Homo sapiens: one gene and its partners. Each later gene encodes a partner of the first gene's protein in a complex. Each region holds a gene or a part of one and is shown in the gene's direction. Other genes may lie near its edges.

Region 1 (4,610 bases):
CTGCCTTGGGAGGAGACAGGCAGGCAGAATAATGCCCGGGGTGCCTGCTTCCCGAGATTGGTGGTGCCTGCTTCCCGAGATTGGTGGTGCCTGCTTCCTGAGATTGGCGTGGGCGTGCAGAGGGCAGCACCGTAAGGGCTGTGGGTTGGTGTCTGGAGGAAGCACCTGAAAGATGACAGGGGTAAGAAGGAGAGCAGGGAGGGGGTGGCTGCGGGACGCCCCTCAGTGAGCGCAGAGGTGGAGCTGCTGCTGGGCCTCGGCTGCAGGAGCCTGCAGGGCAGTGGAGGGGAGTCCCAGGCAGAGAGGGTGGGCTGGCCTCTGCTGGGGACACACAGCTCCCCCTTCACCCTTCTCAGTGTCACCAGACACTGCGGAGCAGGATCAGATGGCAGAGATCACCACCGGGTCAGAGAGCCCTAACCTAAGTTGGCAAGTTGTGGCCCAAGGCGGCGAAGCTTGAGGGGTGGGGCAGGCAGCGTGGAGAGAGAAGCCACAGAGACCGTCTCAGCCCCCGAAGCCTTTGCACCTGGGTCTCAGAGCATCTCTGTTGCCTGCTCCCCGCAAGCCCTAAGCAGCAGGGCTGGGATTTGTTCTTTTGTATTCCGTGAACTCACTGAGGGACTCAGCACAGGTCAGGCAGCGCAGTCATCACCGCTGTCAGAGCGGAGCACTCTGTCTCCCCTACAGGAAGCCCTGTCCCCATCAGCCATCACTGCCTGTCCCATCCCTGGCCCTGGCACCCACGCATCCCTTCCCTGTCTTTGTGGATTGGCCTGTCCTGGACATTTCATAGAAATGGGATCTCACGGTGCGCAGCCTTCTGTGTCTGGCGTCTCTCACTGAGCGTGACGTCCTCAGGTGCGTCCTCAGGCGCATCCGCGCTGTGGCCTGCGCCAGCCTCGCTCCTCTTCCTGGCTGGTGGTCCCACCGCGTACACGTGCCGCCGCCTGTTTTGCTGCTGCTTTTGAGCTGAGAATTGTTTTTATGACTTTTAAATAGCTAGAAAGGGATCAAAACAAGACTGTCTCACGATGTGGAAATTACATGAAATTCACAGTTCAGTGCCTGTGAGTAGAGCTGACCGGCCGCAGTTCAGCCACACATGGACTCATTACCGAAGCTGCCTCCACCCAGGCAGCCCGAGCCAGCAGCTGTGACCGGCACCCTGTGGCCCACACGGCCAGAAGTGTTTGCCATCTGGCCCCCCGCAGACGTGGTCTGCTGCCTGTGGTGGAGATCACTCTGGAGGCGGCTGTCATCGGCCACTCCCGGGAGCCCTCTCCTACCCTCAGTCCTCCATCCCTGGAGCAGTTAGCCCCATACCTGGGCCATGCTGGGGCGGGCCCTGCGCCCAGGACGGATCTCATGCCTTCTCTTTTCTCTCCCCCGGTGATTTCTCCAAGCCAGTGGAATCCTGAAGGGCTTCGACCCACTCCTCAACCTTGTGCTGGACGGCACCATTGAGTACATGCGAGGTGAGTGGGGTGGCGGCCGAGGCAGGCAGCGGGACGAGGGGGATAGTGGGGTGAGGGGGGCAGCGGGACGAGGGGGGCAGTGGGACGAGGGGGGCAGCCGTGGGGCTCCCTGCTGGCTCTTCTTCTCTCAAACCCACAAAACCTCTGAGTTACCAACGTGAAGCCTCGTGGCGGCCGATGGACGGGCTTGAGCGCTCACTGGTCCTAGACGTCCTCACAAAGCAGGAAACCCCATTGTTGTGGGGCCTGGAGAGACGGGAGCTGCCAGCTCACCCACTGGTCTCTACACACTGACGGGGCGCCCGGCACAGTTAGAGGACAACCTTTTTAAATGTTTTATTATTTTAATTTTTGTTAAATTGGTGACGTGAGAGGCCAGGCACAATGGCTCACACCTATAATCCCAGCGCTTTGGGAGGCCAAGGCAGGAGGATCTCTTGAGGTCAGGAGTTTGAGACCAGCCTGACCAACATGGTGAAACCCCGTCTCCGCTAAAAATGCAAAAAAATTGCTGGGTGTGGTGGCGCATGCCTGTAATCCCAGCTGCTCGGGAGGCTGACGCAGGAGAATCGCTTGAACCTGGGAGGCGGAGGTTGCAGTGAGCCGAGATGGTGCAACTGCACTCCAGCCTGAGTAACAGAGTGAGACTCCGTCTCAAAAAAAAGAGATAAGCTGAGGTCTCACTGTGTTGCCCGGGCTGGTCTCGAACTCCTGGGCTCAAGCCATCCTCCTGCTTCAGCCTCCCACAGTGCTGGGGTTCCAGGCGTGAGCTGTGGCGCCCAGCGGAGAGCAGCCTTGCTGTGGGGTAGTGAGCGTGCCGTGGGGCTCCTCTCGGGCGCCTTTCCTCTTCTGCCCTTGTTAATTCCCGCTATGAACGCAGGGTCCCTGTCTCCTCCCCAGAGGACCCTCCCTCATTTCCCTGCCCCCGCTCGCTCCCCTCCCCAGTGAGGCCGCCAAGTCCTCAGACTCTCCCCCAGAAGCTCCTGCGGCAAGTCCCCAGCTGGCAAGTCCCCATCCCGGCCCGGGCACTGGGGGAATGTCAGGACTTAGGAGAGAGAGGGTCTTGCCCCTTGGATCCATTGATACTGAGACAAGATTTATTCTTGTAGCTGGCCATGGTGGCTCATGCCTGTAATCCCAGCACTTTGGGAGGCCAAGACAGGAGGATCACTCGAGCCCAGGAATTTGAGACCAGCCTGGGCAACATAGTGAGACCCTGTCTCTACAAAAAAAAAAAAAATGTAATTAGCCAGGCATGGCGGTACATGTGCCTGTGGCCCCAGCTACTCAGGAGGCTAAGGCAGGAGGATTGTTTGAGCCCAGGAGGTTGAGGCTGTGAGCTGTGATTGCACTGCTGCACTCCAACCTGAGCAACAGAGCAAGACCTGGTGTCTGAAAAAAAGTTTAAAAACCTGGGCCCCATGGTTCTCCCATGCCCCCACCACTGCAGGACCACAGTAGTGAGGAGTTTTAATCGCCTTCAGCCTCTTGAGAGCTTGTCTTGGGCTTGCTGGCACTTCCCTGGGGTGCCAGCCCACATGGTCCCCACCCCACATGAACAGCCTCTTTATTTTTTTATTTTTTGAGATGGAATCTCGCTCTGTCACCCAGGCTGGAGTGCAGTGGCGCGATCTCGGCTCACTGCAAGCTCCGCCTCCTGGGTTCACACCATTCTCCTGCCTCAGCCTCCCGAGTAGCTGGGACTCCAAGTGCCTGCCACCACGCCCGGCTAATTTTTTTGTATTTTTTAGTAGAGACGGGGTTTCACCAAGTTAGCCAGGATGGTCTCGATCTCCTGACCTCGTGATCCGCCTGCCTTGGCCTCCCAAAGTGCTGGGATTACAGGCGTGAGCCACCGCGCCCGGCCCCCAGCCTCTTTGTTATAGGGTGAATATTGGCCCCCTAGGGCTCCAGGGACCTTGCAGAGACCAGGAGGCCCAGGGTGCCTGTATTCTGGCCGGCCATCTGATAACCTGGTTCCCGGCCCTGGTGCCTGGGCCCCAGTGAGCTCTGAGACGCGGGGTAGCCGGCTATCACCTGGGCCTTCTTGTTCCCATGGTTTGTGGAGTGAGGGAGGGCTGTGGCTGCTGTCTGTGGAGCTGCCACTGGTCTCTAGGGGCCATGGGTCTCAGCCGTGGGAGCCGGGGACCTGCCCCACAGAGCGCATCCCGTCTGAGGTCCCTGCGTGCTCGTGGCGCCTGCAGGGTGCAGGTGGGGAGGTCGGAGCGAGGGTCTTGGGTGGGTGGGGGGTCTCGGAGGCTTCCTGGAGGTCCCTCAGTCCTCTCTATCTGCTCCTCCCCAGACCCTGACGACCAGTACAAGCTCACGGAGGACACCCGGCAGCTGGGCCTCGTGGTGTGCCGGGGCACGTCCGTGGTGCTAATCTGCCCGCAGGACGGCATGGAGGCCATCCCCAACCCCTTCATCCAGCAGCAGGACGCCTAGCCTGGCCGGGGGCGCGGGGGGTGCAGGGCAGGCCCGAGCAGCTCGGTTTCCCGCGGACTTGGCTGCTGCTCCCACCGCAGTACCGCCTCCTGGAACGGAAGCATTTTCCTTTTTGTATAGGTTGAATTTTTGTTTTCTTAATAAAATTGCAAACCTCAATGTGTCTGAGCCCCGAATCTTGCTTTTCCCTTGACCTTCTGAGGAAACCTGGATTCCTGGAGATTGGACTCAGTCCCTGGAGCTCATCAAATACCAGCCATGGTCCCTCCTGGGGGTGAGGGTTCAGGAGTGACCAAGGCGGGCACAGCCAAGGCCGAGACAGGCGAGTTTGGAACCTCAGTCTGATGAGGGGCTTGTGGAACCCCAGGCCCGCCCCCAAGACAGCAGGAGCTGGGGTGCATCAGGAGCCGGGATGCATCAGGAGGCTGGGGTATATCAGGAGGCCGGGGTGCATCAGGAGGCCGGGGTGCGTCAGGAGCCGGGGTGCATTAGGAGGCTGGGGTGCATTAGGAGGCTGGGTGTGTCAGGAGCTGGGTGTGTCAGGACCTGGGGTGAATCAGGAGCCGGGGTGCATCAGGAGGCTGGGGTGCATCAGGAGCCGGGGTGCATCAAGAGGCCAGACCCCACAGCCCATGCAGCTAACACCTGCCCCCGCTGCTGCCCCCGCTTGTGAGATGGACTGGTCACCTA
Region 2 (7,044 bases), on another chromosome or scaffold:
CAGCACACCCTTAAGACTGCCACAGGGGTAATATCCACACCCCCAGGACTTTTACAAAGATCAGATGAGCTGTATGTGTGCCATAGCTGCTCAGTGCCTCACATACTGTGAGTGTTCAACATATGATACCTATTGCTTTTTTCCAGATGAGAAGGTCAGAGAGGTAAAGCACCTTACACCGCGGTCAGGCATCCTGACCATCCATTGGTTTGCAGGGTTCATTTATTTGTGATTTTTCTGTAGCTTTGAGCGTCTGTCATCTTCCTGCGAGGTTGACAAGCTTGGTCAGTTCCCTGAATGCAGAGAAGTAGACCTCTGGTGACTCAGGTTTATTGCATTACTGTCAATAGATCAGTTTATCTATTGAGGGTAGATAAGTTTATCATCTCTCATATATCCAGTCCTCTGGCTTAAGGCATGCTCATCCACTTTAAGGTTCTTTAATTTGGTGAGGAGAATGCAAGACTTGGGTTAGTGAAGCTTAATGGGTTTGTTCAATTAGCTGTATGTATTTGGACAACTTGCTGGGTTTCCAGGGCCTTTGTCATCCCATCCGTAACGTGAAGGTGTCTAACCAGATAACCTTGGTAGCCATTCAGAGATGCAGTCAACATGACACAAAGTGCACAGACCTTGGTGTCCGACAGACCTGGAATCAGCTTGTAGCCTGCCCCCTAGGGTGACTTGGGGCGAGCTTAGCTTTGGACCTCCTTCATCCTCTGGTCCCTCCTCTAAATCAGGGATAAAAATAGCACCTTGGCCTCAGAAGGAACCATGCCTGACCAATGGTGGGGGACAGCCACCTGCCTCCCTGCTTGTATTTGTATGCTAGTGCTACCATAACAAAGTTTCACAGACTGGGCAGCTTAGACAACACAAATTTATTTTCTCATAGTTCTGAAGGCTGGAAGTCTGAGATCAAGGTGTTGGCAAGGCTGGTTTCTTCTGAGGAATGTGAAGGAAGGATCTGTTTCAGGCCTCTCTCCTTGCTTATATATGGCTCTCTTCCTGTGTCTTCACTTGGTCTTCCCTCTGTAGTGTTTCTGTCCAGATTCTTCTTATAAGGATACCATGCATGTAGGATTAGGGCCCACTCTAATGACTTCATCTTAACATAATTATGTTTATAAAGAATTTTTTTTTTTTTTTTTTTGAGATGGAGCCTTGCTCTGTCACCCAGGCTGCAGTCTTGCTCTGTCACCCAGGCTGGAGTGCAGTGGCGCGATCTTGGCTCACTGCAACCTCTGCCTTCCAGGTTCAAGCGATTCTCCTGCCTCAGCCTCCTGAGTAGCTGGGACTACAGGCATCTGCCACCATGCCCAGCTAATTTTTGTATTTTTATATTTTTAGTAGAGACAGGTTTCACCATATTGGCCAGGCTGGTCTCGAACTCCTGACCTTGTGATCTGCTCGCCTCGACCTCCCAAAGTGCTGGGATTACAGATGTGAGCCACCATGCCCAGCTTGCTTGCTTTTTTTTTTTTTTTTTTTTTTTTTTTTTTTTTTTTTTGAGAGTCTCACTCTGTCGCCCAGGCTGGAGTGCAGTGGCATGATCTCAGCTCACTGCAACCTCTGCCTCCTGGGTTCAAGCACTTCTCATGCCTCAGCCTCCTGAGTAGCTGGGACTATGCCCAGCTAGTTTTTCGTATTTTTAGTAGAGATAGGGTTTCCCCATGTTGCCCAGGCTGGTCTCAAACTCCTGAGTTTGCCTCAGCCTCCCAAGTGCTAGGATTACAGGCGTGAGCCACTGCACCTGGCCTTTTTTTTTTTTTTTTTTTTTTTTTTTTTTGAGACAGAATCTTGCTCTGTTGTCCAGGCTGGAGTACAGTGGCACAATCTCAGCTCACTGCAAACCTCCGTCTTCCCGGGTTTAAGCAACTCTCTTGCCTCAGCCTCCTGAGTAGCTGGGGTTATAGGCATGGGCCACCGTACCCCACTAATGTTAATATTTTTTGTATTTTTAATAGAGATGGAGGCTCATCATGTTGCCCAGGCTGGTCTCTAACTCCTGAGCTGAGGCAATCTGCCCACCTTGGCCTCCCAAAGTGCTAGGATTACAGGCATGAGCCACTGCACCCAGCCTTTTTTTTCTTTTCCTTTTTCTTTTCTTTTTTTTTTTTTTTTTTTTTTTTTGAGATTAAGCTTTGGTCTGTTGACCAGGCTGGGGTGCAGTGGTTTGATCATAGCTCATGGGCAGCCTTGGACTTCTGGGCTCAAGAGATCTTTTCACCTCAGTCTTCTAAGTATCCAGGACTACCAGTGTGCCCCACCATACCTGGCTAATTTTTAAATTTTTTTGTAGAGACGGAGTCTTGATATGTTTTTCAGGCCAGTTTCAAACTCCTGGCCACAAGTGATCCTGCTGCCTCAGTCTCTCAAACTCCTGGAATTACAGGCATGAGCCACCACATCTGGCCTGTAAAGATTTTTTGTCTCTAAATATGATCACATTCTGAGGTGCTGGGTATTAGGACTTCAACAATGAATTTTTTTGAGGGATACAATTTAGCCTGTAACAGGATGTAGAGGCCTCACTGGGTCTATCAAAACCTAGGCACATTGAATAAGAGCCAGCAGACTGTGGCGTAGCTAAAGCTGGTGGTGGGTGAACTCTGAGCACAGTTTAGTTTGTTCAGCACATCTCAGGCTGTGAGGCTTGCCTGTCCTTCCCAGATCCAGTCATTCTGCCTTTTGGGAATGAGAACATCCTCTTAGCACTTTTCCTTGCTTGTTCAATAACATTTTCTGTTATAAAAGTGGGGTGGGACAAAATGTGGTGGCTACTCCTATAATCCCAACACTTTGAGAGGCTGAGGCAGGAGGATCACTTGAGCCCAGGGGTTCAAGACCAACCTGGGCAACATGACAAGACTTTGTCTGTAAAAAAAATAAAATAGACGGATGTGGTGGCACATGCCTGTAGTCCCAGCCATTCAGGTGGAGGCTGAGTTGGGACGATTACTTGAGCCCAGGAAGTCAAGGCTGCAGTGAGCTATGGAGTGCCACTGCACTCCAGCCTGGGCGACGGAGTGAGACCTAGTCTCACACACACACAAAAGCACACCACAACGATTCGGAAAAGATAAATAGAGGATCTCACTCTGTTGCCCAGGCTAGTCTTGCACTCCTGGACTTAAGCGATCCTCCCACCTTGGCCTCCCAAAGTATTGGAATTACAGGCCTAAGCCACACCTGCCCTGTTTTGGGGTTTTAGTATTTACTTTTTATTCTATCCTCTTTCAGAAATAGTTAGACCCTGTCTCTTCTGAAAAGCAAAAAAGTTTAAAAATTATCTGGATGTGGGGCTGGGCACTGTGGCTCACGCCTGTAATCCCAGCACTTTGGGAGGCTGAGGCGGGCAGATCACGAGGTCAGGAGATTGAGACCAGCCTGGCTAACACGGTGAAACCCTGTCTCTACTAAAAAAAATACAAAAAATTAGCCAGGTGTGGTGGCGGGCGCCTGTAGTCCCAGCTACTCGGGAGGCTGAGGCAGGAGAATGGCGTGAACCCAGGAGGCAGAGCTTGCAATGAGCCAAGATCGCGCCACTGCACTCCAGCCTGGGCGACAGAGCAAGACTCCATCTCCAAAAATAAAAAATATATTATCTGGATGTGATGGCTTATGCCTGTAGTCCCAGCTACTCCATAGGCTGAGGCAAAAAGGATCACTTGAGCCCACCCAGCAGTTCAGGCTGCATTAAGCTCTGGTCGCACCACTGCACTCCAGCCTGGGTGACAGAGCAAGACCCTATCTCTAAAATTAAAAAAATTCTATGGCAGGATAAAAGTAGATGCATAGATCATGGTGCAGGTAAGCTGGGGTAGAATGTAAAATGAAGCCAAGCAGTCAGTATCCAGAAATGTAAACCTGAATCTCTCTGTACATTGAATAAAGGTATATTCCAGTGTAAGATTAAGCAGGGAAGATCATCAGTTCCAAAATGCATAGTGTTCTTAAGTTAAAATAGCAATTGTGTGGATTTCCCTGGCACTCAGATACAGGAGACACTATTAGATGATATCCTCGACAACATCCCCATACAAAATACCCTTTTATGGTCCCTCAAGTAGTTTTAAAGTATCCTGTTATCTTAGCACTGTTTTTGACATTTGAAAATGCAAAATATGGCCAGGCACATTGGCTCATGCCTGTAATCCCAGCACTTTGGGAGGCTGGGCCAGGGGGATCACTTGATCCCAAGAGTTTGGGACCACCCTGGGCAACACAGTGAGACCCTGTCTCATATATGTGTGTGTGTGTGTGTGTGTGTGTGTGTGTGTGTGTATGTGTGTATGTATGTATATATGTATGTATATATATGTGTGTGTGTGTGTATATATATATATATTTTTTTTTTTAAAGGAAGAAGAGGAAATATGTGTATGTGAAACTCAGGATGAGGTCCCTGAAATGGTGCTTATCGGGTCAGAGGGTGTGCATCTGAGGTTAAGCTGGGAAGGCAGGGAGCTTTTGTTCTCCTTCTCATTCCGACAGCTGCAAGCCAAGCACTGGTGGCCAGTGCTGCAGGATAGGGCATCAGCTGCAGGATATGGCATGTTGGTCAAAATGCTGTTGGCATAAGTGAGAAAAATAACAATACTCCAAAATATGTCCCCAGTTTTATAAAAATGGACCCAAATTATAAATGATACAAGCAAATACAGAGAGTAATGGTCAAACCCATTTCACTACATTCAAAATGACTTAATTCTTAGAAGTTTTGGTGGGAGAATGTGGTGTAGAGCTCTGCACAAGCAGACATTGTGCTTTTGGGGCTTCAACATGACCACCCAATCACTGATGGGACTGTTTGAAATCTGTTTTGTTGGCTTTGGCATATAATAGCCATCTTTGGAAAACTGGTCTCTGTATGGAATATGGTCTTGTGTCACTGTATAAAAATGAGAACCCAAAAGAAGCTCTCACATGATTGGGTCAGAAAATTGCCCATAACTATTGCTAGGAAAGTTTTTGAAATCTCTGAATTCAATGTAATTGAATTTCTTTAGACACCTAGCCCTCTAGGTTGAAGGAAAACCAGTTTTTTAAACTTATCGTATACTTTTTTTTTCCTGTACTGTTTGTGTGTGGATTGCATTCATCATGCTCCTCTACCCCATAATACTTTTGTATTTCCTAAGAACAAAGATAGGTAGATGGCCTTAGTTGGTATTCGTATTATAGCAGTGGCATCCAAGCACCTCTGCCTTTGTGTATGTGTGAAATTGTCCTAAAGAATGCATTTCTGGTGTATTGACAGGCCTGAGACACCCCAACACACCTTCACAGTCCTGGAGCTAGCTTTCTCCATCTTGGCCCCAGGTATCTAAGAAAGTCCCACCACTTTGTGCTACAAAGATTCTCTCTCTCCCCCTCAGGATGTCATTTCAGTTGGGTACCTGGCTTATACCATATGTGTTTCATTGTGGCTGTTGAGGAAAGTTGATTAAACTGGGTGTTCCTGCCTGGAGTTGATTAGGATCTGGTTCACTCAAAAGTTGCTGCCTTGGGCTTGTGATACAAACACAGGTCAGGCTTATTAGCAAGCTCTAGCAGGCATGTGTGCAGTGAGACTGTGGGGTTTTGTCCACAGCAAGCTGTTCTTAGCCAGTGCTACAGGGAAAGCGAGAGCAGTAGTGAGCCTGGTTGTTAGGGTTAAAATAGGAGTCAGAGGACACTGGACTCTCCTGCTTCAGCCAGGACATAGTTCATTTATGGAAATGCCTAGATTAAGTCTTGTCGGACTTATGCAACAGCTTCTGTCAGGAAAGGAGTGAGATGTGCCCCTGTGCTGGAGGGAGTGTGGCTTAGCAGTGGCACAGCTCCCAAAACACATTTTAGCTGTCAATCAGATTTAGCATGTACTGAGTCTCTATTATGTATTAGGCAATAGAGACAGCATTTAGACATACTTTGCCTTGTTCATTTTTTTTTTTTTTTTTTTGACAGGGTCTTACTCTGTTGCCCAGGCTGGAATGCAGTGTCATAATCATAGCTCACTGCAGCCTTGAACTCCTGGGCTCCAGCCATCCTCCCACCTCAGCCTCCCAAGTAGCTGGGACCACAGGCATGCACCACCACACCTGGCTAATTGTTAAAAATTTTTGTAGAGATAGGATCTTGTTACATTTCCCAGGCTGGTCTCAAACTCCTGACCTCAAGCAGTCCTCCCACCTTGGCCTCCCAAAGTGCTGGGATTACAGACATGAACCACTGTACCTGGCCTGATTTGCTTTTTAACAATTTCAGGAAATGTGCAGTGGTTAAGAGTGTGAGTTAGAAAGAACTGGGTTCAAACTCCAGCCAGGCCATGTAAGCGTGGTGTGACCTCAAGCAGGAGAATAGAGGGAAAGGGCATGGGTTTCTGGGGACAGATCTGCCTCTGAATGGCTATGTCACTTCATCTCTTTACCTTGTAGGATTTTGTGGGGTAACATGAGCTGCCGTGGGGAAATCACCTGGGCCAGCACTTGATGTCTAATAAGTGCTCAGTAACTGTTGGCTTTGTTGTCTTGTATTTTCAAAACTCAGCTTTGTAGTTGAGGGAACGGAGGCTCAGGGAAGCCTGGAGATATACCTAGGGTTACACTTCTGACAAATGGCAGAGCTGGATCTCACCTATAGGTCTTTAGGCCTATTTTGTGTCTTCTACAGAGTCATGAGTGTGGCACAGTCCCCAAAACACGTTTTTTGTTTGTTTGGTTTGTTTTTTGTTTTTTGAGACGGCGTCTTGCTCTGTTGCCCAGGCTGGAATACAGTGGCGTGATTTTGGCTCACTGCAACCTCTACCTCCCGGGTTCAAGTGATTCTCCTGCCTCAGCCTCCCGAGTAGGTGGGACTACAGGCACCTGCCACCACACCCGGCTAATTTTTGTATTTTTAGTAGAGCCAGGGTTTCACCGTGTTTGCCAGACTGGTCTCAGGTGATCCACCCACCTCGGCCTCCCAAAGTGCTGGGATTACAGGCATGAGCCACCGCGCCCAGCCCCAAAACACATTTTAATTGTCAGTCAGATTCAGGTGAGCCTGAGTTGTATCCAG
Region 3 (7,044 bases), on another chromosome or scaffold:
AGGATTGGGTTTTCTAGGGAGGAGGGACAAGGCAGTTAAGGGTTTCACAAAGGAGAGGTTCTGTTGATTTCCCCCTGAGTCTAAACTGGGTAATGAGGGACATAACAGAGAATGATGGGTGTGAGGACAGGGCCTGGAGTCGTGATGTGGTTGAAGAATTACTGGATTGAAGTTAATACAGTCAATGAGCTAGAAAGAAAGGCTGGAGAGAACAGAAAGGATCCTTGGAATTGAGGGGTTGTTTTGTTTTGTGATAGTGTCTCACTTTGTCACCCAGGCTGGGGTGCAGTGACTCTATCTCAGCTCACTGCAATTTCCACCTCCTAAAGGTGCTCTGTCCACATACAGTCATTGGGGGTTAGGGCTTCCCGATATGAATTTAGGGGTTACACAATTCCTAGATAGGACAATATATTGTCAAGATGTCCATCTCATGTAGTTCATTTCTAGGTTAAATGCAACTCCAGTAAAAATCCCAATAGGGATTATTTTGGAAGCTGGAAAATGATTCTGAAATTGGATAAAGTAGGGGCATTGTGGCAGTGTGGGATTGCATAAGGATAGACTAACAGAACAGAGAGACCAGACAGCGGGGCCCCGAGACAGAATCGTGTCCCAGTGGGAAGAGTCGCTCGTCAGTGCAGCGAGTGGGCGTGGGACAGTCAGTTATCTATTTGGGGAAAAAATGAAATTGGGTTTATACCTCACACCTTGCAGATAGATTAAGAACTTCAAAGTAAAAACTTCACATTTCGGAATCAAATTAAGGAAATTACATTTATAACTTTTTGGTAGAAAAGATTTTTTAAGTTGTCAGCATAGCCAAGGCAGGAGAATTGCTTGAGGCCAGGAATTTGAGACCAGCCTGGGGCAACACAGCAAGACCACCCCCCCTACCAACCCCATCTCTAAAAATGTTTTTTTAATTAGCTGGGCATGGTAGCATGTGTCTGAAGCCTCAGCTACGCCGGAGGCTAAGGCAGGAGGATTGCTTGAATCTAGGAGTTCGAGGTTATAGTCAGCTATGATAGACTATAGCTGACTATATCACAGATAGCTATGATAGCCTGGGTGATAGAACAAGATCCTGTCTCAAAAAAAAAAAAAAACCAAGAAACCCACAGGTTCCATGGGTGAGTTTCTTCAAGAAACCATGAAGAAAAAAGTGAACGTGTAACTACATAGAAATTGAGAACGTGGCCGGGCGCGATGGCTCACGCCTGTAATCCCAGCACTTTGGGAGGCCAAGGCGGGCGGATCACGAGGTCAGGAGATGAGACCATCCTGGTCAACACAGTGAAACCCTGTCTCTACTAAAAAAAATACAAAAAAATTAACCAGACGTGGTGGCGGGCACCTGTAGTCCCAGCTACTAGGGAGGCTGAGGCAGGAGAATGGTGTGAACCCAGGAGGCGGAGCTTGCAGTGAGCCGAGATCGCACCACTGCACTCCAGCCTGGGTGACAGAGCAAGACTCCGTCTCAAAAAAAAAGAAATTGAGAACGTAAGTTTTTTGTTTTTTGTTTTTTTACAAAACATACCATGAAGAATATAAAAAGGCAGACCAAAAAGAGAAGATATTTGCCCATATATACCACCAAGAATGGGTTGGTGTCAAGAGTATACAAACAGACAAAACAAATCAACACAACAGGAAAATAGGCGAAAGATGTAGATAAGACAGGCAGTTCACAGAAGAGAAAGCCTAACTCACCAGGAAAATACCCGGTGAATCCAGTTTCAGGAGGGATCACAGAAAGGTGAACCAAAACAGTGAGGCACCTGCCACCTGCCAACAATTCCGCAGAAAGGTCCAAGCCTGACAGTAGCGAGTAGGAGTAAAGGACATGGAGCGGCCAGAGTCCTCAGCCACGCTACTCACAGCCATGGGCAGGAGTCTAATCAGATGAGAGGGAATGTGTGCGTGCCCGGGGCCCACCCCACACCTCTCCCGAGTGTGCCCATGTGCACCAGGAGACATTGTCAGTGGGCCTGCAGCCGCAGTACTTGGGACAAAAAAAGTCCATCCTCAGTGGGCTAGAGAGCCAGATCAAGGAGCATCCAGCTCACGGGCTGTGATTCCATAGTGGAAACTGATGAGCTACAGCCGTGTGCATCAGGGTTACTCTCAGGGGCACAGATTTTTTTACAAAACAAATCACAGAAGAGTCATACAGTGTGACTCAGGTTATAGAATAATTAATACACAACAAAATAACTGTTCAGGGGCAGGTCCTTATGTGCTAAAGCCATGAAGACAAGCCGGTGAGTCATGACCATGGATGGGGAGGGGACACTCAAGTCTGGGCAGGGCATTAGTGATGCTGCCCCAGCCCCAGGGAGAGGGACATGGGTGTGTGTTTAGTTAATGTTTTAAAAACTATATCAGCCGCTGGGTGCGGTGGCTCACACCTGTAATATCAGCACTTTGGGAGGCCTAGGCAGGTGGATCACAAGATCAGGAGATTGAGACCATCCTGGCTAACATGGTGAAACCCCCTCTCTACTAAAAAAAAAAAAAAAAAAAAAAAAAATTAGCCGAGCATGGTGGTGCATGCCTGTAATCCCAGCTACTCAGGAGGCTGAGGCAGGAGAATCACTTGAACCCGAGAGGTGGAGGTTGCAGTGAGCCAAGATCGTGCCACTTCACTCCAGCCTGGCCAACAGTGAGACTCTGTCTCAAAAAAAAAAAAAAAAAAAACCATATCAGCCGGGTGTGGTGGTTCACACCTATAGTCCCAGCACTTTGGGAGGCTGAGGTGAGTGGATCACTTGAAGCTGGTTTTGGGACCAGCCTGGGCAACATGGTGAAACCCTGTCTCTACTAAAAATACAAAAATTAGCTGGTTGTGGAGGCATGCACCTGTAGTCCCAGCTACTTAGGAGGCTGAGGGAGGAGGATCACTTGAACCTGGGAGGTGGAGGTTGCAGTGAGCCTATATCGCCCCATTGCACTCCAGCATGGGTGATAGAGTGAGATGGTCTCAATAAATAAGTAGCATATGATGCATTAGATATACCTCGTTTTATGTTTACAATGTTCATTAAAAAATAAGTGTTCCTGGCCAGGCGCGGTGGCTCACGTCTGTAACCCCAACACTTTGGGAGGCCAAGGCAGGCAAATCACGAGGTCAGGAGATGGAGACCATCCAGGCTAGTACGGTGAAACCCCATCTCTACTGAAAAAAAATACAAAAAAATTAGCTGGGCGTGGTGGCGGGCGCCTGTAGTCCCAGCTACTCGGGAGGCTGAGGCAGGAGAATGCTGTGAACCCAGGAGGCGGAGCTTGCAGTGAGCTGAGATCGCGCCACTGCACTCCAGCCTGGGCGACAAAGTGAGACTCTGTCTCAAAAAGAAATAAAAATTAAAAGACAAACAAACAAACAAATGTTCCTGGATGTCCTGGAAGACTTTTTTTTTTTTTTTTTTTGGAGACAGGGTATTGCTCTGTTGCCCAGGCTTGAGTGCAGTGGCAAGATCACGGCTCACCATAGCCTCGGCCTCCAGGCTCAAGCAATCCACCCACCCCAGCCTCCCAAGTAGCTGAGACTACAGGCATACACCACCATGCCTGGTTGATCTTTGTGTTTTTTGTAGAGACTGTGCTTCACCTTATTGTCCAGGCTGGTCTCGAACTCCTGGGCTCAAGTGATCCTCCAGCCTCGGCCTCCCAAAGTGCTAGGATTATAGATGTGAGCAACCACCCGGCCCCTGGAAGAATTTTTTTTTTTTTTTTTTTTCGAGACGGGGTTTCACTCTTGCCCACTCTTTTGAGTGCAGTGGTGTGATCTTGGCAGCCTTGATCTCCCAAGCTCAAGCAGTACTCCCACCTCAGCCTCCCCAGTAGCTGGGACTATGGGCGTGTGTGACCACAATGTCTAATTTTTATGTTTTTTGTAGAGATGGGATTTGGGTATGTTGCCCAGGCTGGTCTCGATCTCCGGAACTCAAGCAGTCCACCCGCCTCAGAAGATTTTTTTAAAAAAATGAATGTAATATAAAATGAAAGAGGGGTGCAGAAGTGGACATAGTGACTCGAACCTTCACTGAGGAGTGAGGACTTTGCTGTCTGGGCTGCAGGGTTGAGGGAGAAGTTTTTTAAAGAGGGGAGATGGTAATCATTGTGTGTGGCTGGGCATCTGCGACAGGAGGGAAAGCAGAGGGTGCTGGTGCCCGTGTGGGGGTCGCTGGATTCAGTGCTGGCAGCATGAGTGAGTTCTCTTCCCATGTCACGGAACCTGCTTTCTTGGTGAAGCAGGAAGCGAGAAGCTGGGCTGTGGGAAGTCAAAAGCGTGGGCCACCTCACCACCCTGCGGGTTCTAGAAGTGCTGTCTAGAGTCCTGAAACCGGAGTTTGTCGGGGGAGGGGCAGGTGGCAGGAGGGAGCCTGGAGGAAGGAGTTTGAGGCTGAGGTAGTGTGTGAGGGGCTTTGGAGGGGGATTGGCACAGGCCTGGTCAGGAAGGCCCTGTAGGATGTTGGGTATTCATTCAAAGGGCATCCAAACCCATTGATGGGTTTGGAGCAGAAGAGTGACCCCAGTGAAAGAGGTGCAGAGTGGAGTTAGGCGGCAGATAGCAGCTGGGCCTGCATGGGCTGTGGGCGTGGCCTGTCTGGCTGCTGCCAGGGAGGACCCTTAGGTTCCTGGGTCTCAATGGCATCACCCCAGAAACTGCTGGGTTTGCCCACAGCCGCTCCCTCCCCCAGGTGGTGGAGATTGTGAAGAAGCTGGAGTCTCGCCAGCGGGGCTGGGAGGAGGATGAGGATCCCGAGCGGAAGGGGGCCATCGTGTTCAACGCCACGTCCGAGTTCTGCCGCACCTTGGGGGAGATCCCCACCTACGGGCTGGCTGGCAATCGCGAGGAGCAGGAGGAGCTCATGGTGCGTCTGGGGCGGCCCCGCCCTCTGCTTCCCTCGGCTGGGTGGGCTGGCTGGGGCCTGGGCCGACCCTGGTCTTTTGTGCCCCAGGACTTTGAACGGGATGAGGAGCGCTCAGCCAACGGTGGCTCCGAATCTGACGGGGAGGAGAACATCGGCTGGAGCACGGTGAACCTGGACGAGGAGAAGCAGCAGCAGGATGTGAGGGCCGCGCCGCTGGGGGGTGGGCGTTTGGGGGTGCTCAAGCTGGAGATGAGCACCGGGCTCGGTGTCCAGAGCCTCAGCCTCCTCATCCAGAGTGGGCTCTGCAGACCTCCCAGGGCGATCTGAGGAGTAAATGAGGAAATTAAATGTTGTGGAGGGCTGGTGCCTGGCAGGTGGTGACCAGTGGGTGGGGCTGAGAAGAGCCGGTATGGCCTGCTAACCACCCCCGCCACGTGTCCCGTAGTTCTCTGCTTCCTCCACCACCATCCTGGACGAGGAACCGATCGTGAATAGGGGGCTGGCAGCTGCCCTGCTCCTGTGTCAGAACAAAGGTAGGGAGCTCAGGGCAGCCATGACTTGGGTGGGCTTGGGTGCTGCTGCAGGTGCAGGCAGGGCCCCCTCCGGTCCCCTCTGCTGCCCCTTTCTCTCAGTCCCAATGCTGGAGCCAGCTGTCCGGCCCAGAGCCACTCCTTCCCCTCCACTGTGGCATCTGTCCGTCTGCTCTGCCTTTGAGGCTCCACACCTGCTTGGGGAAGGAGAGGGGAGTTGAAACTGTTCCAGCTGTGGCACAGAGAGCCCTGGTGTTAGGACCCCAGCTCTGCCATTTCCCTGGCCAGTGACCCTTGGCAAGGGGCTCATTTCTGCATCTTTGCTTTGCCTGTAGAACAGGCCTGATGGCTTTCCAGAGGCAAGGAAAGGGAGGTGCCCCCACAGGGCCTGCTCTGCCTTCTCAGGCGGCCCTGGAGCTGTGGCTCTCGAGGGGTTGGGAGTCTCACAACCCCTCCATCCCTAGGGCTGCTGGAGACCACAGTGCAGAAGGTGGCCCGGGTGAAGGCCCCCAACAAGTCGCTGCCCTCAGCCGTGTACTGCATCGAGGATAAGATGTGAGTGTGGTGGGGCCTGTGCAGGGCTGAGGGGCCTGTGCCAGCTTGGAGCTTCGGGACCACAGCAGGCGGCAGCTCCTCACACTAAGGCCTCCTCTGTCTCGGGCCAGGGCCATCGATGACAAGTACAGCCGGAGGGAGGAATACCGAGGCTTCACACAGGACTTCAAGGAGAAGGACGGCTACAAACCCGACGTTAAGATCGAATACGTGGATGAGACGGGCCGGAAACTCACACCCAAGGAGGTGAGCAGGGCCTTTTGCAGGCGGAGGCCCGGCCTGCCACAGGGAGGCCAAGCCCAGGGCCATGCAATGCCCCGGGCCATGCAATGCCCCAGGGTCCTGGCTCCACCAGCCTCTGGCTGGGGGCCTGGTGAATGCCACGGATGGGGAGGGGGCCCTCAGGGCTGAGGAAGGCTGTGCCTCAGTTTGTCTCTAGTGGGCACAGCAGTCTCTTTGCAAGCCTGGCAGGAGGGTCAGACAGGCACTCGGGACCTCTGCCCTCCTGTCCTCACCTGCGTGAGCCCTTCACTGGCTTTCCTGGCCCGCAGGGCCATTCCAGCGTCCAGGCCCTTCCAGCACTCTCGTAGGCCGCCCGACCGTCCTGCCCTACCACTCAGCTGCCCCCTTGCTCTCTGGGGTTTGTCTCCCTGCAGCCCCAGCCCCAGCCCCAGCGTCCAGGCCCAGCCCCTGCGTGGCAGGTCTCCAGGTTCCCCATGCTCTGCCCCCATGGCAGCGCATCCACTAGCCAAGCTGGTCTCCCGGCCTCTGCTGGGGCCCTGCAGGGTGCCAGCGTCTGTGCTCTTTTCCCATCCCCTTCCCACTGCACCCCAGGCCTGGCATTGGGGTCAATCAACACCCGCCCTGTTATTATACACCTTGTGGGCACAGGTGGCTCCGGCCCCACCCAGGGCCCTGCATCTCCTCTCATGCCCCGCGTCCCCAGGCTTTCCGGCAGCTGTCGCACCGCTTCCATGGCAAGGGCTCAGGCAAGATGAAGACAGAGCGGCGGATGAAGAAGCTGGACGAGGAGGCGGTGGGTGCCCTTGGGGATGTGGGGGGCCCTGTGCCTGCCGGGGCAG
Region 4 (2,642 bases), on another chromosome or scaffold:
CCTCCCAAAATGCTGGGATTACAGGCGTAAGCCCCTGTGCCCAGCCAGGAATGTCCATATTTAGGTTCTCTCAGTGGTTGACACTGTGTACCTCATAAGTGAGAATGTCTAGTCTGTCATTTCTGAGCAGGAAGGAGACATCATAGGTGATGATTAGATGGCTTCCTCTTTTCTCATCTTTAGTGTCCACTAAATTCCTTTTAAAAAGATGTACAGAAGTGTTTCAGACTCCATTGTACTTCAAGGGGCCAGGCGCAGTGGCTCATACCCATAATCCTAGCACTTTAGGAGGCTGAGGCGGGAGGATCTTTTGAGACCAGGAGTTAGCCTGGGCAACACAGTGGGACCCCATTGCTATTAAAAAAAAAATTAGCCAGTTTTAGTGGCACACACCTGTAGTTCCAGCTACCTGGGAGGCTGAGGGGAGGATCGCTTGAATCCAGAGGGTCAAGGCTGCAGTGAGCTGTGATTACACCACTGTAGTCCAGCCTGGGTGACAGAGTGAGACCCTGTCTCAAAAAAAAAAAAAAACAAAAAAACAACAAACAAAAAACAGTGCTTTAAAAAAATTCCCAACAGGAATTGAGTTTGCCATGATTGACACACCAAAAGTCCTATTAATTGAATCATGGCCAGAAGAAGTCATGTACCCTCTTCTTTATGACTGTTGCTGGATGATGTCTAGTGGCTGTTCTTCTAATTTTTCTAGTCTTGGCTATGATCCTTTCCTTCTACACCCTTTTGGTTTTAGAGAGCAGACTAACCCAGCTCTTCATACTTTCTGCAGGGGACAGGCAAATGGTATGAATTACAAGACCTCCAGGTGACTGACATCCTTCCCCAGATGATCACACTGTCAGAGGCTTACATTCAGGTGGGTTGGCCACAGGCTTAGTGAGCCACAAATAGGTGGCGTATGGGGCCAGTGAGAGGAGTGGGCCAAGGCAGGAAGAGGGATAGAGTTAGGACCTTGGTTGGAGGGCCAGGTACCTATTGGGAAGTACTTAGTAGTGAGTTGGGGGCAGAATGTATGGCCCTGAAAGTCAAGCAGAGATTTTCAGAAAAGAAGTATAAGGAAGTGTAGAAAATGTATGAGTGAGCAAAGAAAGTTGCGATTATGGCCAGGTTAGTTTTGCAGAAGTGTGCGGTCTGGTTTCGAGGAGGAAGAACCTAGACTCATCAGGGAGGCTGGCTAGAAGTCGACCACGAAGTGCTCCCCAGAGCCCCAGGCAGCTTTGTGACCCCACAGCGCTTTCTACTTGACGTTTGTTTTAGTGCCGGCCATATCGCTTTGCCTGTCTGTCCTCTCCATTGGATTGACCCATGGAGCACAGAGCATCTCTGTCTTCTCTTTATGTAACTGCCCTAGTACCTGGCAAAAGAAGGAAGATTGAGACAAAAGCCATAGCTTTGTAAGAAGAAAGTGATACCTCTCCTTCTAGAGATAACTTTTTTCTCCTCAGTGGCTGTAGCCACTGTAGCAGATTTCCAAATGGGGTATAGCAGATTTGTAAATGGGGTGACAAGTTGTCCATGGCCTGGCACAGAATAGGTATTTGATAAGTGTCTGTTGACTGAATGCCTCCTAGACTTCAGTTTGTGTTTTCATTTCTTACAGATTTGGAAGAGGCGAGATAATGATGAAACCAACCAGCAGGGGGCTTGAAGGAGGCGTCTAGGGCTTTGCTCCCAAGGGCTGTGGCTGATGATGGTAAATAAGAACACAGAAGCTGTAGCTGAACACAGGCTGGCTGGTGGGCTTCCTAGGCCAGCCCAGCTTGTATGGGTTCTGGCTACACCAGAGCACCAAGAGCCCACTTGCCTGGGATGGCCCCACACTGTCACTCAGCTGTTCTTTGATCATTTTTTTCTAGATTGATGCTCCTTTCTCCCATGCATTGAGCTCCCATCTAGCTTCAGCAGGGCAGAACCCTTCTCCAGATGTGTGTAACTTATGTCTTGAGTATCTGGGAGTAGTTGAAGAACAGATAATTCCTTCCAAACATCAAGCCTTGGGATTCTTGGAGCAAGCAGAAAGCCAGTAACTTCGCTCTGTTAGAGGTGGAGGATTTTCCTATGGTTCCCCCCATTTCCTGATTTGTATTTTTAGATGGATTAAATAGTCTCCTGTTTTTAAACCAGCCTCTTGTTTTATATCTTTTCCTTTGGTGGTTGGCTGAGGAAAATATTTTCCTTTTTAATCTTCACAAACTCTCTACCCTACAGTCTGACATCTGGTGCACATCACGCTCGCCCTTTCCTGTCAGCTTGTGGGTGGTGTGTCAGTTAGGATGCATTTGTTTCTAAGTAAAAAAATACCTGAGTCAAGGGGATACATTATTATTGTGCTTAACTAGAGGGCCAGAGGTGGGCAGTTTCCAGCTGCAGTGCAGGAATGAGTAAGGGAAGAGGAAAAAAAGGAAATAGGAAGCGCTTCTCACTACAGTGCAATTCTGAGGTGGTCTCAGCCAGTCCAGTGTGGAGCCCCAGGGCAAAGATTCCGTCAGACAATTCAGCAGAAATGGCTCCCATCAAGCTCAGTCGTGGGCTCTAGCAGCCTAGAAGAAGGGTGGCCTTGGCATGAGCACTGTGGCAGGTCCAAAGATATGGGAAGCAGCTGGAGGCAGCCAGTCAGCCCCAGC

Evidence for each region.
Region 2: LSM7 (region 1) and SNRPD3 share a complex: the UniProt entries of both Homo sapiens proteins name them as parts of the U4/U6-U5 tri-snRNP complex.
Region 3: LSM7 (region 1) and SART1 share a complex: the UniProt entries of both Homo sapiens proteins name them as parts of the U4/U6-U5 tri-snRNP complex.
Region 4: LSM7 (region 1) and USP39 share a complex: the UniProt entries of both Homo sapiens proteins name them as parts of the U4/U6-U5 tri-snRNP complex.

The regions. Positions count from the first base shown.
Region 1 is NC_000019.10:2,320,990-2,325,599, reverse strand, and holds the end of LSM7 (U6 snRNA-associated Sm-like protein LSm7), read left to right. Parts: intron 1-1,403; coding exon 1,404-1,475; intron 1,476-3,777; coding exon 3,778-3,920; 3' UTR 3,921-4,079; downstream 4,080-4,610. UniProt on the Homo sapiens protein: Plays a role in pre-mRNA splicing as component of the U4/U6-U5 tri-snRNP complex that is involved in spliceosome assembly, and as component of the precatalytic spliceosome (spliceosome B complex).
Region 2 is NC_000022.11:24,558,957-24,566,000, forward strand, and holds part of SNRPD3 (small nuclear ribonucleoprotein Sm D3), read left to right. Parts: intron 1-7,044. UniProt on the Homo sapiens protein: Plays a role in pre-mRNA splicing as a core component of the spliceosomal U1, U2, U4 and U5 small nuclear ribonucleoproteins (snRNPs), the building blocks of the spliceosome.
Region 3 is NC_000011.10:65,971,692-65,978,735, forward strand, and holds part of SART1 (U4/U6.U5 tri-snRNP-associated protein 1), read left to right. Parts: intron 1-4,687; coding exon of another isoform or gene 4,688-4,703; coding exon 4,704-4,877; intron 4,878-4,964; coding exon 4,965-5,075; intron 5,076-5,322; coding exon 5,323-5,410; intron 5,411-5,871; coding exon 5,872-5,962; intron 5,963-6,072; coding exon 6,073-6,208; intron 6,209-6,908; coding exon 6,909-6,998; intron 6,999-7,044. UniProt on the Homo sapiens protein: Plays a role in mRNA splicing as a component of the U4/U6-U5 tri-snRNP, one of the building blocks of the spliceosome. May also bind to DNA.
Region 4 is NC_000002.12:85,647,143-85,649,784, forward strand, and holds the end of USP39 (ubiquitin carboxyl-terminal hydrolase 39), read left to right. Parts: intron 1-787; coding exon 788-874; intron 875-1,618; coding exon 1,619-1,666; 3' UTR 1,667-2,141; downstream 2,142-2,642.